Regions from separate parts of the Homo sapiens genome. Here region 1 is linked to region 2. A link means that fine-mapping ties the variant in region 2 to the expression of a gene that starts in the linked region. Tissue or cell type: whole blood. Region 2 holds a variant in brackets; the other region holds the start of a gene. All regions are shown on one strand. Distances are between the middles of the regions.

The links. PIP is the estimated chance that this variant, and not a neighbour inherited with it, causes the effect.
Region 1: RALGAPA1 starts here. The variant in region 2 is fine-mapped to the expression of RALGAPA1 in whole blood (INTERVAL, PIP 0.95).

Annotation. Positions count from the first base shown.
Region 1 is chr14:35,804,559-35,812,743 of GRCh38, forward strand. It overlaps RALGAPA1 (Ral GTPase activating protein catalytic subunit alpha 1), which reads right to left and starts at 4,737. Exons shown (of 42, transcript NM_001346249.2): 1 at 4,172-4,737. The coding sequence starts at 4,277. RefSeq lists enhancers at 4,387-4,947, 4,784-4,883 and a silencer at 4,464-4,703.
Region 2 is chr14:35,761,912-35,770,096 of GRCh38, forward strand. RALGAPA1 (Ral GTPase activating protein catalytic subunit alpha 1) reads right to left here. Exons shown (of 42, transcript NM_001346249.2): 5 at 799-842. SNORA101B (small nucleolar RNA, H/ACA box 101B) reads right to left here and starts at 1,020; the gene lies at 889-1,020. It also overlaps the pseudogene QRSL1P3. The variant C/T (reference allele first, on the strand shown) is at 4,094.

The sequences.
Region 1 (8,185 bases), 43 kb after region 2:
ACTCCATCTCAAAAATAAATAAATAAATAAATAAATAAATAAATAAATAAATAAATAGTGAGTAACTATTCAGAAATAAAAAGAGATTAACAGTTAGGTACAGTGGCTCACACCTGTAATCCCAGAATACTTTGGGAGGCTGAGATGGGAGGATTGCTTGAGTCCAGGAGCTTGCAACCAGCCTGGGCAACATGAGACCCCATCTCTACAAAAAAAAATTTTTTTTAATTGGCCATACACGGTGGTGCATGTCCCAGCTACTAGGGAGGTAGAGGAAGGAGGATCGCTGGACCCTGAAAGGTCAAGGCTGCAATGAGCCACGTTTGCAACACGGTACTCCAGCCAGAGTGACAGAAGACCCTGTCACAAGAAAAAAAAGCAATGAACTATTAACATACCAGGATACAGATTAATTTCAAAATAATGAGGCTGAGAAAAAGAAACCAAGGCCAGGTGTGGTGGCTCACGCCTGTAATCCCAGCACTTTGGGAGGCTGAGGCAGGCGGATCACGAGGTCGCGAGTTCAAGACCAGCCTGACCAACATGGTGAAACCCCATCTCTATTAGGAATACAAAAAAAAAAGGCGGGGCGCCGTGGCTCATGCCTGTAATCCCAGCACTTTAGGAGGCTGAGGCGGGGGGACTGCCTGAGCTCAGGAGTTCGAAACCAGCCTGGGCAACACAGTGAAACCCTGTCTCTACTAAAATACAAAAGAAAAAAAAAAAAGAAAAAATTAGCCAGGCTTGGTGGCGTGCGCCTGTAATCCCAGCTACTCAAGAGGCTGAGGCAGGGGGATTGCTTGAACCCGGGAGGCGGAGGTTGCAGTGAGCCGAGATCGCGCCACTGCATTCCAGCCTGGGTGACAGAGTGAGACTCCGTGTCAAAAAAAAAAAAAAAAGAAATCAAACATAAAATGACCGTACTGCATAATTCCATTTTTATGCTGTATAATCCCATTTATATAAAACTCTAGATAATGCAAACTAATCTAGGGTGACAGCAGATTAGTGGTTGCTCAGGAAAGGTGGGAGGGTACAACTGAGGTGGGAGAAAGAGATTACAAAGGGGCATGAGAAAACTTTGGGAGGTTATACATACATACATATATATATTTTTTCTTTTTCTTTTTTTTTTTTTTTTCCTGAAACGGAGTCTCGCTCTGTTGCCCAGGCTGGAGTGCAGTAGCGTGATCTCGACTCACCACAACCTCTGCCTCCCAGGTTCACGCGATTCTCCTGCCTCAGCCTCCTGAGTAGCTGGGACTACAGGTGCACGCCACCATGCCTGGCTAATTTTTGTATTTTCAGTAGAGTAGAGACCCGGTTTCACTCTGTTGGCCAGGCTGGTCTTGAATTCCTGACCTCGTGATCCGCCCACCTCGGCCTCCCCAAGTCCTGGGATTACAGGCATGAGCTACCGCACCCAGCTGATTATACATATATTATCCTGATTGTCACTGTCTATATTTGTTATCTTGATTGGATATTTTAAATATTTGTTATGATGGTTTCAGGAGATATACATATGTAAAAATTATTCAATTATGTACTTTAAATATGTGCAGTTTATTGTGTGCCAATTATACCTCAATAAAGCTGTCAGAATTATTTAACAATAAATATTTTTAGCTAAATAAGCACTTTTTATTTTTATATCAAGAGGACTGAACTGTTAGCTGTAAAGTAGAACAAAACTAACACTAAGTCAATACCCACTATATGCCAAGCATTATGTTAGCCAATTTACATGTGCTAATTTATAATATCATTACCATTAGTTGTAAAATGGGGGGGAGGGGGTAGGTAGAAAGGATAACAGCTTTAGAAATCAGACAAGGCTTTTTTTTCTGTTTTAAGAAAACCCTGACTTCTAGTTTTTACAAATCAATTATGCAACAGTATCAATAAACATACCAGATTTAAATCTAAATCTTCAGAGTCAAGTTCTATAAATTTAACTTGGATTGTCCTACAGTGGGAACACATGCCAGGAAAAAAGTTTACAGCGGATGTTTAAATTATGATTATGTTCTCATACATATAGATGCACTGAATCCTCCCATAAGTACCCTGAGTGAATGGCAGTTCTGTTTGGTCCCATATGAACTATGAACTATGGGACCAAACAAAAATCAAAAGCCTGTGTAACTGGCAATGCCCAATTACTCTGCAAACTAGTTTCCTCATTGTGTTTACCTTATTTAAAGCCCGCACCTACTTCCAGAAAGGATTTTCCATCTGCAAAATCAAATACCTGATTGGCAGACCTCTAAAAGACACTAGTTTTTGTCATTCTACTTTCTCTCATTCATTTTCTTAGAAATTACATTAACTGTATTTCAAACAAAATAACGACAACAATAAAAGACTTGTTTTTGTTTTGTTTTGTTTTCAAACCAAGCAAGCTAAGTCCTACAAAATGCCTTATATGTGTGACCTCTCTCTTAATTTACCTTTTAATTTTCCATGTCTGCCAGATGGAAAAAAACTCTATGCCAAAAAAGTATATATAAATAATTCCTTAACCAGTCTATAAATAAAGTATGGCCTTTAATTTAGGAAATCTCGATACTTTATTGGAACTCAACTTTATAGCTGTGTCATTACCTAACCTACAGCTTATCCCAAGTAGGTGTCAAGCTCCATTAAGTGTTCAATTTCAAACTGCCATTACCTGTGAATCCCTCGCCTGCATTCACACATTAACTTACTGTGTCCTATTCTCGGCTAAATCTTTATTTCAATGGCTTAACTCTCAAGAAGAATGAAAACAAAAAGATCACAATCTCCACTATATTTAGAAGCTTTACATTTTCTTGAAAACTGAGCTTTTTATAGCGCTAAACTGGATTAACTGCTTTCTTACTACTCCACTGGAATAAATACAATTTACTTGTGACAAAGATTAGCTGTCATAAATGTAGAAAGAGTAAAAAAACAAACTAGAGACACAAAATCTGGGTTCCAATTCTGACTCAGCCTCCTGGTAGCTGGCTGACTACTCGATGTTCCCAAACTTCAGCTTTTTTGTTGGTAAAAAATGGAGAATAATATCATCTACCTATAGAGTTATTGCAAGGATTATCATAATTTACGTGAAATCACTGTAAACAGTAAAGCATCATAGAAATGTTGGGTAATATTGGTGGTATCCTGGTGGTATGAGTAAACAATAGACTAGAGAAACATGTACCTCAAATAAGGGACTTACTTTTTTCACTAAATAAACATCACTTTCCAAAACAAATACGCATCAGGAGGACAGCTCGAGATAAACTCTGAACTAGGATTCAGGCATCTGGATGAATGCATCTTCTTCAGCCAGTTCCACCATTAACTCTAAGTATCAACACAGGCGAAATAATTTTCCTTTTCATCTCAAATGTCTTCATCTAAAAAATCCAACTACTGGACCAGATGTTCCATAAGTATTATTACAGCCTTTATCAGCCTACCAAATGACTAAGTATTCAAAAGAGTCGATTAACATTATATTCAAAACTTAGAGCACTGTTTGGTCTACCAGCAAAACAGAACTTAAGGGCAGACGATAAAAAAAATATTTTTAATTAAAAATAGAATTATATACAATTCTCGAGAAGCAAAGGATGAGTTAAACTACCTATAATAGTTCTCCCTCTAAATGACTAGTGATGAACAAGGTGCATTAACAAAAGGGCGGGGCTCCTTCCCACAGCTTTTTGGGAACCGCCCACTTCCCAAAGAGGTGTAACTGCTACCTCCTTGTCTTCATCTGCCAAGAAACTTGAAAGATTAAGGTTTATATTGTCTGAGAGAGGATTTTATTTTTCTTTTTACTTGGGTGGGGTTGGCAGTAGTCATCTGGCAAACATATCCTATAAACACCATTATCCACAACGCCAGGTCTCCCCACAAAGTCTTAAAGATCTAAGTTTTTAGAGTAATACCAATTTTAAAAAATAAGTTCAGACTATTAACTCAAAATTAGATTACTGTGTTAACAGTAATCAGTGCTGCCAACTGCCAAGTTTTCGCTTCTCCGAATTATTCACCCTCCCGCGTCTCCGCAGAGGCTACGATTTGCCCTCTCCTGCACCGCGCCAGGTCCCGAGAGAGAGTCCGCAGGGGCTCCCAGGAGAGGGAAGGCCGGGCAACCCAGGCCTCGGCGCTGCCACCCCTCGCTCCTCACCGATGACGATGCGCAGGTGCTTGAGGCGAGTCAGTGCGTCCTTCTTGGTGTCTAGCACCTTCTGGGTGGACTTCTTCACGTCCCCGTGCGGCTTCTTGGAGAACATCCTGTCGCTGCCACTGCCACTGCCACTGCCACAGCCGGCTCCCAGCCGGGTCCCGGCGGCAGAAAGTGGAGGGAGTGGACGGGGAGGAGACTAGCCAGAGAGGCTCATTAGCTCCCCAGCCTTGCGGGCCAGGGCAGAGCCGACTCCTTCCCGATCCAGGCCAGGGCCGCCACCTCCACCCGCCTCGCGCCGCGGCTCCAAGGCACCTTCGGCCCCAGCTCCAATATGGCGGATCCCTCTCCCGGCCCTGCACGGAGCGAGGCAGACCCGGGCTGGCCGCCTGCCGCCGCCGCTCGTCTCCAGCGGCCGCCGCTCGCCGCCACAGGCCGGGGCCCCGGACCCAGAGCCACGAAGGTGGAGCTCTCGGCGGCAGGAGCACAACTCTCTCCCTGAGGCCCCCTTAAGGTTGAAGCTTCTTTAGCAGCTTACACCCTGCAGAGGCCGAAACGGAGACGAGTGTGGTAGTGATGGGGTTTCACGACTCTGCCGTCGGTGGCGAACGGTGTCCGTGGCAACCGCCTTCTGACGTCAAGAGTTCTTGACGTCATGCCAGCATGAGATCACCCGTGGCACTCCCCGCCTTGGTTTCCTGTGTAAGCAGCCAAAGGAGAATCTCAAGAAAGGCAAGGAAGGTAGTTACTGCGTGCTCCATTGTAAGCCAAATGATAGTAATAAGCAAAGAGAAGTAATCTTTATTAAATATGTCCATGATTTATCTTTGAAAATGTGCATAAGTTGTTGTGGCCACCAGATCCTCTAGCAGAAAGATAAACGAAGTTACAGTTGGGCAATTTATTCTGTCCTAAATCTATTACTAATAATATTTCCTGCACTATGTATGTGATTTCTTTCATATTTTTTCTATTTGCAATATCCCTGTTTTTTGCTGCAAACAACTTGACAACAGAAAGGCTTAAGCAGAGGTATCTAGGTTTTTTAAATAAAAGTAATCTTGCTTTCCTTTTCTATTGTGCTTTTAAAAATCTTTTCCCCATCTGCACCCCACATAAAGATGAATATATTGTCAGTTTTTCCTCTGCAAAGAAGAATTCAAGGTTCTTATTACATTGATGGAGTCATCTGAAGAATCTGCAATAGCTGAAAAAAATCCGTGAAATTCTGAATGACATAAATTGAAATTTTTATTGGAACCCTTTTTTTTTTTTTCCTTTTTCCTTTTCTTTCCAGACAGGGTCTCTGTGTCCCAGGCAGAAGTGCAGTGGTGTGATCTCAGCTCACTGAAGCCTCGAACTCCCAGGCTCAGGTGATGCTCCCACCTCAGCCTACCGAGTAGCTGGGACCACAGGTGCGCGCCACCACATCCAGCTAATTTTTGTGTTTTTTGTAGAGACGGGGTTTCGCCATTTTGCCCAAACTGGTCTAAAACTCCTAGACTCAAGTGATCCGCCCGCCTCAGCCTACCAAACTGCTGGGATTACAGGCGTGAGGCCACTGCGCCTGGCCAGGAACATTTCCTCCACAAAATAATTTGATAAAGAGTGAGTTTGCTTGTTTGAACTGTTTCCTTCTATGTTCTCACCCATAGCAATAGACTTGTCCAATGAAATATGTGATTAACATAGAAAAATAACAAAATCAGCAAAGAAGAGAGATGTAAGACATTTGCCAAAATTATGTTAAAATATAGTGCTTTGCTTAATGGTAGTTTGTTTCAACAACAATCCTATATTTTTTAAAGTACAAAAAATTTATTCAGTTTCTACATGTAGGGTTTGTTTGTATCATCAAACTTACAAGCCATACATGTTTTGAGGAAGCTTATAACATAATAGAAAAATAAGGGGATTGTTCAAGAGATTTTAGTTCTAGTTCCTCTCAGCATCAGTTTTCTTATTAATAAAATCAAAATAAGGTCTGTCCCTCACAGTTTCGTGAAATTTAGGCAATAATACAATGTTTTCAAGCATGATCTTTAGAATTACATAGACCTAAATTAGACATTCTGTTTTTCACTTGCAAGGACTTACTTGCTCTCGGGCCCTTGGCATGTAGTTCAGTCTCAGCCTGATTTTCCTCATTTGTAAACTACATCAGTGATTGTGATAATTAGGTGAGAAAAGTATTGAAAGTTACATCTATAATGACACATCTCATAACATTCCTTTCCTTCATAGAATTTAAATACAGTAATTTGTGTAACTGTTTACAGATTCTCTCTTTCATGAGACTGTAAACTCCCTGAGGACAGAGACTGTATAGATTGTCTAAAGTTGTATCCCAGTCTTCTTGCAAAGTGCTCTTTGCAAGATAGGCTCAATAAATCTGTGTCGAATAGAAGAACGAATGTCACTGTCCCTTCCTTTCTCTTGCGCAAGTACTCAGTAAATGTTTGGCAAATGAGTGACATAATTTTAGAGAATAAAAATGTAACATATCGTTAAAAATAATTATATGGCTGGTATACCTGAGAAAAAATGAAAACACCATTGCAAAACAAACTAGTATAATGTAATTTACATATGGCACACCCATCCCACTGCCTGGTTTTTCTCTTCCCATTGATTTAAATATTAAAATTCTTTGAAAGATAAGTCTTCCCCACAGCAGACATAATTATCATGGAAATAAAACCCAGAAATATACCTTTGAAATATTGCTTGTGAGGGCCAGGCACGGTGGCTCATGCCTGTAATCCCAGCACTTTGGGAGGCCGAGGCAGGCGGATCACAAGGTTAGGAGAGTTCAAGACCAGCCTGACCAACATGGTGAAACCCCGTCTCTACTAAAAATACAAAAAAATTAGCCAGGCGTGGTGGGGCACGCCTGTAATCCCAGCCACTCAGGAGACTGAGGCAGGAGAATTGCTTAAACCCAGGAGGCGGAGGTTGCAGTAAGCCAAGATTGCACCACTGAACTCCAGCCTGGTTGACAGAGTGAGACTCTGTCTCAAAAAAAAAAAAAAAAAAAAAAAAAAAAAAAAATATATATATATATATATATATATATATATTGCTTGTGAGAACTAGATTTTTTTTCTTTTAGTGACTGGGTCTTGCTCTGTCATCCAGGCTGGAATGCAGTGGTGCAGTCACAGCTCACTTTAGCCTTAACTTCCTGGACTCAAGCAATCCTCTCACCTCAGCCTCCCATGCAGTTGGTAACACAGGCAGGTGCCAAAAAGCCCAGCTAATTAAAAAAAAATTTAGTAGATGGCCAGGCGTGGTGGCTCACTCCTGTAATCCCAGCACTTTGGGAGGCCGAGGCAGGTGGATTACCTGAGGCCAGGATTTCAAGACCAGCCTGACCAATATGGAGAAACCCCTTCTCTATTAAAAATACAAAATTAGCCAGGAGTGGTGGCGCGTGCCCATAACCCCAGCTACTCGGGAGTCTGAGGCAGGAGAATCACTTGAACCTGGGAGGCGGAGGTTGCGGTGAACTGAGATCGTGCCATTGCACTCCAGCCTGGGCAACAAGAGCGAAACTCCATCTCACAAAAAAAAAAAAAAAAAAAAAAAAAAAAAATTTAGTAGAGACAAGGTCTCACTATTTTGCCCAGGCTGGTCTTTAACTCCTGGCCTCAAGGGATCCCCCTACCTCAGCCTCCCAAAGTGTTGGGGTTACAGATTACAGGCATGAACCACCACACCTGGCCTACACACAAATGTTTATAGCAATTTTATTCCTAACTCCAAAAACTAGAAGCAACCAAGATATCTTTCAGTAGTTAAATGAATAAACATACTGTGGTACATCCATACAATGGAATATTATTCAGCAATAAAAAGAAATGAGTTCTTGAGCCACAAAAAGACATGTATGACACTTAAATGCATATTGCTAAGTGAAAGAAGCCAGTCTGAAAATGCTACATACTGTATGATTCTAGTTATATGACATTCTGGAAAAGGCAATATTATAGCAATAGTAAAAAGATCAGTGGTTGC
Region 2 (8,185 bases):
ATGCCAAAAGCACCTGTAATAATGTTACTTTACCTAACCTACAGCAAGATATTTTCGGAATGGGCAGCTTCTCTTACTACAGTACAATGGCATAATGAAAAAGAAACAAAAATGTTTATATATATATGTGTATCTCCCCTACTTCCCTCTACATCTAATAGTGGCTATGGTGGAATGAAGAATAATCTGTTGAATGACTAAACAATGTTTTCCTTCTGGGGACCATAAAGAGGAAAGATTGCTGGTGAATGAGTCCATTGAGTGGCAAAGTACAACAGTTTTTTCAATGTCCCCAGTCAACCTAGAATGGTTTGTCAAACAAACTCTTGCTACGTTTTTTTTTTGTTTTTGTTTTTGTTTTTAAGATACAGTCTCACTCTGTCGCCCAGGCTGGAGTGCATCGGCTTGATCTCAGCTCACTGCAACCTCTGCCTCCAGGGTTCAAGCAATTCTCCTGCTTCAGCTGCCCAAGTAGCTGTGAGTACAGGCACGTGCCACCACGCCCGGCTAATTTTTGTATTTTTAGTAGAGACAGGGTTTCACTATGTTGGCCAGGCTGGTCTCAAACTCCTGGCTTCAAGTGGTCCACCCACCTCAGCCTCCCAAAGTGCAGAGATTACAGGCGTGAGCCACTGCACCCAGCCTCTTGCTACATTTTAAGGGAACTCACTTCAATTAAATAAACTGAAGACAATTCAGAGATCTTTAGGAAAAAGCTTAGGTAGGAAAAGTGTTAACAGGTGGGATGTATGTTCTACTCAGTATTTTTAAAGTCATGGAAAGTAAACATAGTTGTACCTTTAAGGAGTTTCCTGTGTGAAGTAGCTTCTTTAAAATCAATCCTGAAAAGAAAATATGATTTTAAATATTCACATCTTATCTATTTGTAAATGTCAGAGTTCTCGGTCGGACTTGAAAACACTTTTAAATAAGTCCTTGGCAACCTCCAAATTATTCTTGGTGACCTTTATATCCTTCTGCCATACTTGGGATCAGAAGGGCATATAAAAAGAATCACCTTTTCAACACATGCTTTATTGCAATTAAACATGATTTATTTTATTAACAAAACCTAGGCCCGAAATTGCATTTAACACAACAATCTATTATAAATCTCTTATTTAGACTAAGAATAAAATAAAATACTTTTATCACTATCCAAATGAAATCCACTATAGAAAATTTTCATTTAGTTAACCACATGAACATCCTTAACTGTAATATTTCCTAATGAATATTTCCATTATACTAATTTTCTAAGTTTTGAAAAGTCATTAATATTTCCTTTTTTCTTTTAAATTATGAAATATTTCAAACCTATAATAAAATACTGAAAATAACATGAACAAACCTGCAGAGGACCACCACTCAGTATGAATAAATCTACACGTAGTTCCATGTTTATTTCACTTACCTGCATTATCTCCAATGTTTTACTTAACTGTACAGGTATCACTGAGGCCCAAATCATATTGTTCCTTTCTTCCCCAGAGGAAACCATTATCTAGGCTTTGGTATTAATCATTTCAAAAAATATTTTTATATTATTACTACACATTTATAAATCCATAAAAAATAATATAAACTGTTTCATATAACTCATTTATTTTTTTAAAAAGTTATTTATATGTTACTTTTCACATCCAACATTAGCTTAAGAAATTTATCTATACTTATCTATGTAGCTCTAGTTAATACATTTTAAGAGGTGCATACTATTCCACCGTATGAACATACCAAAATTTATTTATCGTCTTTATATTAAGACATTTGGTTTTTTTCAAATTTTTGCTATTCCAAGAGTACCGTAATAAATAGTTATTGTTCATGATTCCCTGTACACACCTGAGTTTCCCCGGGGTGTGTATATATATATATATATAGAGAGAGAGAGAGAGAGGAATAAAATTACTTTCAGCTTTACCAAATATTAGATAATTTTCTCCAAAGTAGTTGTAACAATTAACAGTACTACCAGCCGTATATGGGAGGGCTCTAGTACCATATTGTTGGCAGCACAAAACATTGACAGATGCTCTAATATTTGATAATCTGATGTATGTTAACTATCTTAATGTTGCTTTCATTTGATATTTCCTAGTGACACTGAACATCTTTTAATTTGGCTATTCAAGGTTTCCTTGTTTTATCCTTTGCACAATTTTCAATTTAGTTGTTCTTTTTTTTTTTTTTTAAAGAGATGGGGTCTTGTTCTGTTGTTCAGGCTGGAAAATAGTGGTGCAATCATAGATCACTGCAGCCTCAAACTCCTGGGTTCAAGTGATCCTCCCACTTCAGCCTCCTGAGTAGCTGGGACTACAGATGTGCACCACCAGGTCTGGCTAATTTTTGTAATTTTTGTAGAGGGCTTCATTATGTTGCCAAGGCTGGTCTGGAACTCCTGGCCTCAAGGATCCTCCCACCTTGGCCTCCCAAAGTGCTGGGATTACACGTGTGGGCCACTACACCTGGCCTTCTTTATATACATATATATATATGGAGTTCCTTCTGTATTACTAATTCTGTGTCTATTTCTATGAATTGAAAATACATTATCCCAAACAATTCAATCATGTTTTTGTTGGGTGGGGAGGTGGTATCTTCTGATGCAGATAAGTTTTATTTATTTATTTATTTATTTATTATCATTTTGAGACAGGTTCTCACTCTGTCACCCAGGCTAGAGTGCAGTGGCATGATCATGGCTCATTGTAGCCTTGACCTCCTGAGCTCAAGTAATCCTCTCGCCTCAGCCCCCAGATAGCTGGGACTAAAGGCACATGCCACCATGCCTGGATAATTTTTGTATTTTTTGTAGAGATGGGGTTTTGTCATGTTGCCCAGGCTGGTCTCAAACTCTTGAGCTCAAGTGATCTGCCCACCTTGGCCTCCCATCCCAAAGTGCTGAGATTACAGGCATAAGACACCATGCCTGGCCTTAAATTTTAATATAATCAATTTGCCAGTGTTTTTCTTTCTTATGTGTTCTTTGTATGTCTAAAGAAATCCTTCCTTACATTAAAATTATAAACCAAATACTCACTTCAAAAAGTTGTTATGTGTTGCTTTTCACATGTAGGTCCTGAAACCTATCAGAAAATTATTTCCTTGTGGGTGGAACAGAATTTGTTTTTTCACAAATGGAAAACCAAGTGTAGTACTATTTCGGGATTTATGATGTTCAAATGAACTAAAATGCCATCTCAATCATATTTCAAGTTTCCATACATAAGCTTAGGTCTTTGGCTGATCTCCATGTTCCTTTTCATTCATCCATTTGTCCATCCCTACATCAGTAACAGTGCCTTTGTTAGTATAACTTTATAATTTATCTTGTTATCAGGCATGAAAATAGCCAACACCACCACCCTCTTGGTCCGATTTGTTATTCTTCCAAATTGCTTTGGCTTTTATTTTACATATAAACTTTAAGATATATTTGTTAGGCTACATTTAAAAATCCCTATAGGAATGTTAAGAATTGTTATATGTGTGTGTACATACATATATATGATATATATTTGATATACATGGTATATATATTTAATATTGATAAATATTGTGTGATATTGATATTTATATATATACTTAACAAATTTATTTGTTTGAGACAGGTTCTTGCTCTGTCACCCAGGCTGGAGTGCAGTGGCACAATCATGGCCTACTGCAGCCTTGGCCTCTTGGTCTCAAGTTATCCTCTCACCTCCCCAGTAGCTGGGAACACAGGTGCACACTACCACACCCAGCTAATTTTTGTATTTTTTTGTAGAGTTGGGGTACTGCCATGTTACCCAGGCTGGTCTCAAACTCCTGGGCTCAGGTGATCCACCCACCTTGGCCTCTCAAAGGGCTGGGATTACAGGCGTGAGCCACTACAGCCAGCCAAAAATTACTGTCTTACATGTGCATCAAATATGCTGAAAGGTAATGCTATAGTAGTTCCGAAATTGTTGGATTAGGGAGCTCTACTAATGGAAAAACAAATTTAGATGAGTTTGCTATGAGATCTGGAAATGCAGAAGGCGTATTTGGACCAGTTAAAAACCCCTGGAGTTATTCAAAACAATATAGAGAAAAGAGGAAGCAGAATCTC[C/T]ACTTTGAGAATGAAGATTCAGACTGGCTGATAACTGGAGGAAGCTCAGGTGGGAGTGCAGTTGCCATATCGGCATTCACATGCTATGCGGCTTTAGGATCAGATACTGGAGGGCTGACCAGAAATCCTGCTGCCTACTGTGGGCTTGTTGGTTTCAAACCAAACTATGGCTTAGTTTCCCATCATGGTCTCATTTCCCTGGAGGATTTGATGGAAGTGCAAGGAATCTTAACCAGATGTGTGGATGATGCAGCAATTGTCTTGGGTGTACTGGCTGAACATGACCCTACGGATTCTACCACAGCACAGGATCCTGTTAAACCATTCATGATTCCCAGTTTGACAAATGTGAGCAAACTATGTATAGGTATTCCAGAGGAATATCTTGTACTGGAATTATCAAGTGAAGTACAGTCTCTTTGGTCCAAAGCTGCTGACCTCTTTGAGTCTGAGGGGGCCAAAGCAATTGAAGTATCCTTTTCTCACATTACTTATTCAATTGTCTGCTACCATCTATTGTGCACATCAGAAGCAGCATCGAGTATAGCAAGATCTGATGGGCTACAATATGGTCACAGATGTGACACTGATGTATCTACTGAAGCCATGTATGCTGCAACCAGACGAGAAGGGTTCAATGATTTTGTAAGAGGAAGAATTCTCTCAGGAAATGTTTTCTTGTTAAAATAAAAATATGAAAATTATTTCATCAAAGCACAGAAAGTGAGATGCCTCATTGCTAATGATTTTGTGAATGCTTTTAACTCTGGAGTATGCTAACTCCCACCACCTTGAGTAAGGCAGTACCATACCTGGAATTCATCAAAGAAGACCACAGAACAGGAAGTGCCCAGGATGATATTTTTACACAGGCTGTAAACATGGCAGGACTGTCAGCAGTGAGTAACCCTGTTGCACTCTCAAACCAAGCGTTGCCCACAGGGCTGCCGTTTACTGGACATGCATTTTGTGACTAGCAGCTTCTTACAGTAGCCAGATGGCTTGAAAAACAAGTAAAGTTTCCTGTTATTCAACTTCAAGAACTTATGGATGATTGTTCATCAATCCTTGAAAATGAAAAGTTAGTCTCTGTCTCTCTAACACAGTAGAGATAAATATATCATGCAAAATTTTTAAAAATTATTGCCTTTATACTATCAAGTTTATTTCCTATGAATATTGCATAAAATTCTGTTTATTCAAGTCCTTTCTTGTTCTTCAATGATCACATAATTGCCATACATTAATAATTTTTATTGAATATACAACATGCTAAAATTTATGGGATGGATATAAGGCAAAGCTTAGAGGGAAATTTATAGTTTTAAATACCTATATCAGAAAAGAAGAAAGCTATCAGATTAATATTCTATGGTTACATCTTAAAAAAACTAGAAACAGGGCCAGGCGCAGTGACTCACACCTGTAATCCTAGCACTTTGGGAGGCTGAGGTGGGTGGATCACGAGGTCAGGAGATCGAGACCATCCTGGCCAACATGGTGAAACCCTGTCTCTACTAAAAATACAAAAATTAGCCGGGCGTGGTGGCATGTGCCTGTATAGTCCCAGCTACTCAGGAGGCTGAGGCAGGAGAATTGCTTGAACCCAGGAGGCAGAGGTTGCAGTGAGCCAAGACAGCGTCACTGCACTCCAGTCTGGGCGACAGAGCAAGATTCCATCTCAAAAAAACAAACAAATAAACAAAAACCTAGAAACAGAAGAGTAAATTAAACCCAAAGGAAGCAGAATTTCTCTCTTTTTTAATTAAAATTTTTTTTTATTGTTGAGACAGGGTATCATTTTTTTACTCAGGCTAAAAGTGCAGTGGCATGATCTTGGCTTGCTGCAGTCTTGACCTCACCAAGTTCAGATGATCTTCCCAAATCAGCCTCCCAAGGAGCTGGGACGACATGAAGGAGTCATCACGTCTGGATAATTTTTGTATTTTTTTCCTAGATGGGGTTTCACCATGTTGCCCAGGCTGGTCTCGAACTCCCATGCTCAAGCGATCCACCTGCCTCAGGCTCTCAAAGTGCTGGGATTATAGGCATGAGCCACCACATCTGTCCTTATTTTCATGTTTTAGAGATTGTGTCTCATTCTGTCACCCCAATTGGAGTGTAGCAGTGTGATCACAGCTTACTGCACCCTTGAATTTCTGGACTTAAGTGATCCTCCTGCCTCAGCCTCCTGAGTAGCAGGGACTACAGGCACATACCAACAAGTGAGGCTAGCTTAAAAAAATTTCTTTTGTCTTTAAAGACAGAGTCTCACTATGTTGCTCAAGCTGGTCTCAAACTCCTGGCCTCAAGTGATCATCCTCTTTCAGCCTCTGCCAAGTGCTGAGATGACAGGCATGGGGCATCATGCCTGCCACAGAATGTTTTATAAAATATAAAAGAGGTTGAGTATGATGGCTCACACCTGTAATCCCAGCACTTTGGGAGGTTGGGGTAGGAGGATGGCTTGAAGCCGGAGGTTTGAGACCAGCCTGGGCAACAAAGCAAGACCCCGTCTCTACAAAAAATAATTTTAAAAAGTGAGCTGGGCCTGGTGGTGTACACCTGTGGTCCCAGCTACTTAAGAGGCTGAGTAGGGGGATGGCTTAAGCCCATTTCAAGGCTTCAGTGAACCATGATCAATCATGGCACTGCACTTCAGCCTGGTGACTGAATAAGATCCTGTCTCTTAAAAAAAATACAGTACTACAAAAAATAAATAGGTAGGGCACAGTGGCTCACGTCTTTAATCCCAGCACTTTGGGAGGCCGAGGTGGGCGGATCACCCGAGGTCGGGAGTTCATGACCAGCCTGACCAACATGCAGAAACCCCATCTCTACTAAAAATACAAAATAAGCCGGGTGTGGTGGTGCATGCCTGTAATCCCAGCTACTCGGGAGGCTGAGGCAGGAAGATCGCTTGAATCTGGGAGGCGGAGGTTGTGGTGAGCCGAGATAGTGCCACTGTACTCCAGCCTGGGCAACAAGGGCGAAACTCCGTCTCAAAAAAAAAAAAAAAAAAAAAAAAAAAATATATATATATATATATATATATATATATACACACACATAAAATATCAAAGACTAGAATGGAAAACAAGAAAATAGAAAGCAGAAAAAGTATAAAGAAAATCAATGATATCAAAAGTTTGTTCTTTGAAAAGATCAACAAATATGACAAATAGTTAGACTGGCCAATAAAATAGGAGAGAAGACATAAATTAACAAAATCAAGGATGAAAGCGGATATAGCCATTAAAAAGAATGAAATCATGTCCGGTGCAGCAACATTTAGCAACATGGATACAGCTGGAGGCCATTATTCTAAAGCAAATTAACATGGGAACAGAAAATCAAATATCATATACTCTCATTTGTAAGTGGGAGCTAAACACTGGGTACTCATGGACGTAAAAATGGCAATAATAGACATTGGGAAGTACTAGAGGGACAAGGGTTGAAAAACAGTTAGGTACTATGTTCACCACCTGGGTGACAGGATCAGTCATACCCTAAACCTCAGCATCATGAGATATACACATGTAACAAACCTGCATATGCATCCCCTGAATCTAAAAATAAAGTTGAAACCATTAAAGAATAAATAAAAAGTTTATGTAATATTAAAAAAAAAGAATGAAAGGGGACATCACTATTGACCCTATAGGAATCGAAAGGATTACTCTAAGGAATAACTTGAACAACTTTCTACTAACAAATTTGTTCCTAGAAAGAAACAAATTATCAAACTGACTCAGAGAGATATATAAAATCTGAATAAACCTATAACAAGAAATTGAAGTAATAATTACAAATATCACAAAGAAAAGTCCAAGTACAAATGGTCTCACTTTTGAATTTTATCAACTATTTAAAGAAGAAAATGTTACCTACCACTCATTCACAAACTGTTTCAGAAAACAAGAGGGACCACTTCTAAACTTCTATAGCTATCTTAATAGTAAAGCCAAATAAAGATTGACAAACTACAATACAATATTCCTCATAAACAGAGAGGCAAACTGAAGTAAGCAACAAATAAAAAGGACTATAAATAGTGAGTAAATAGGATTTACCTCAGGTATGGAAAGT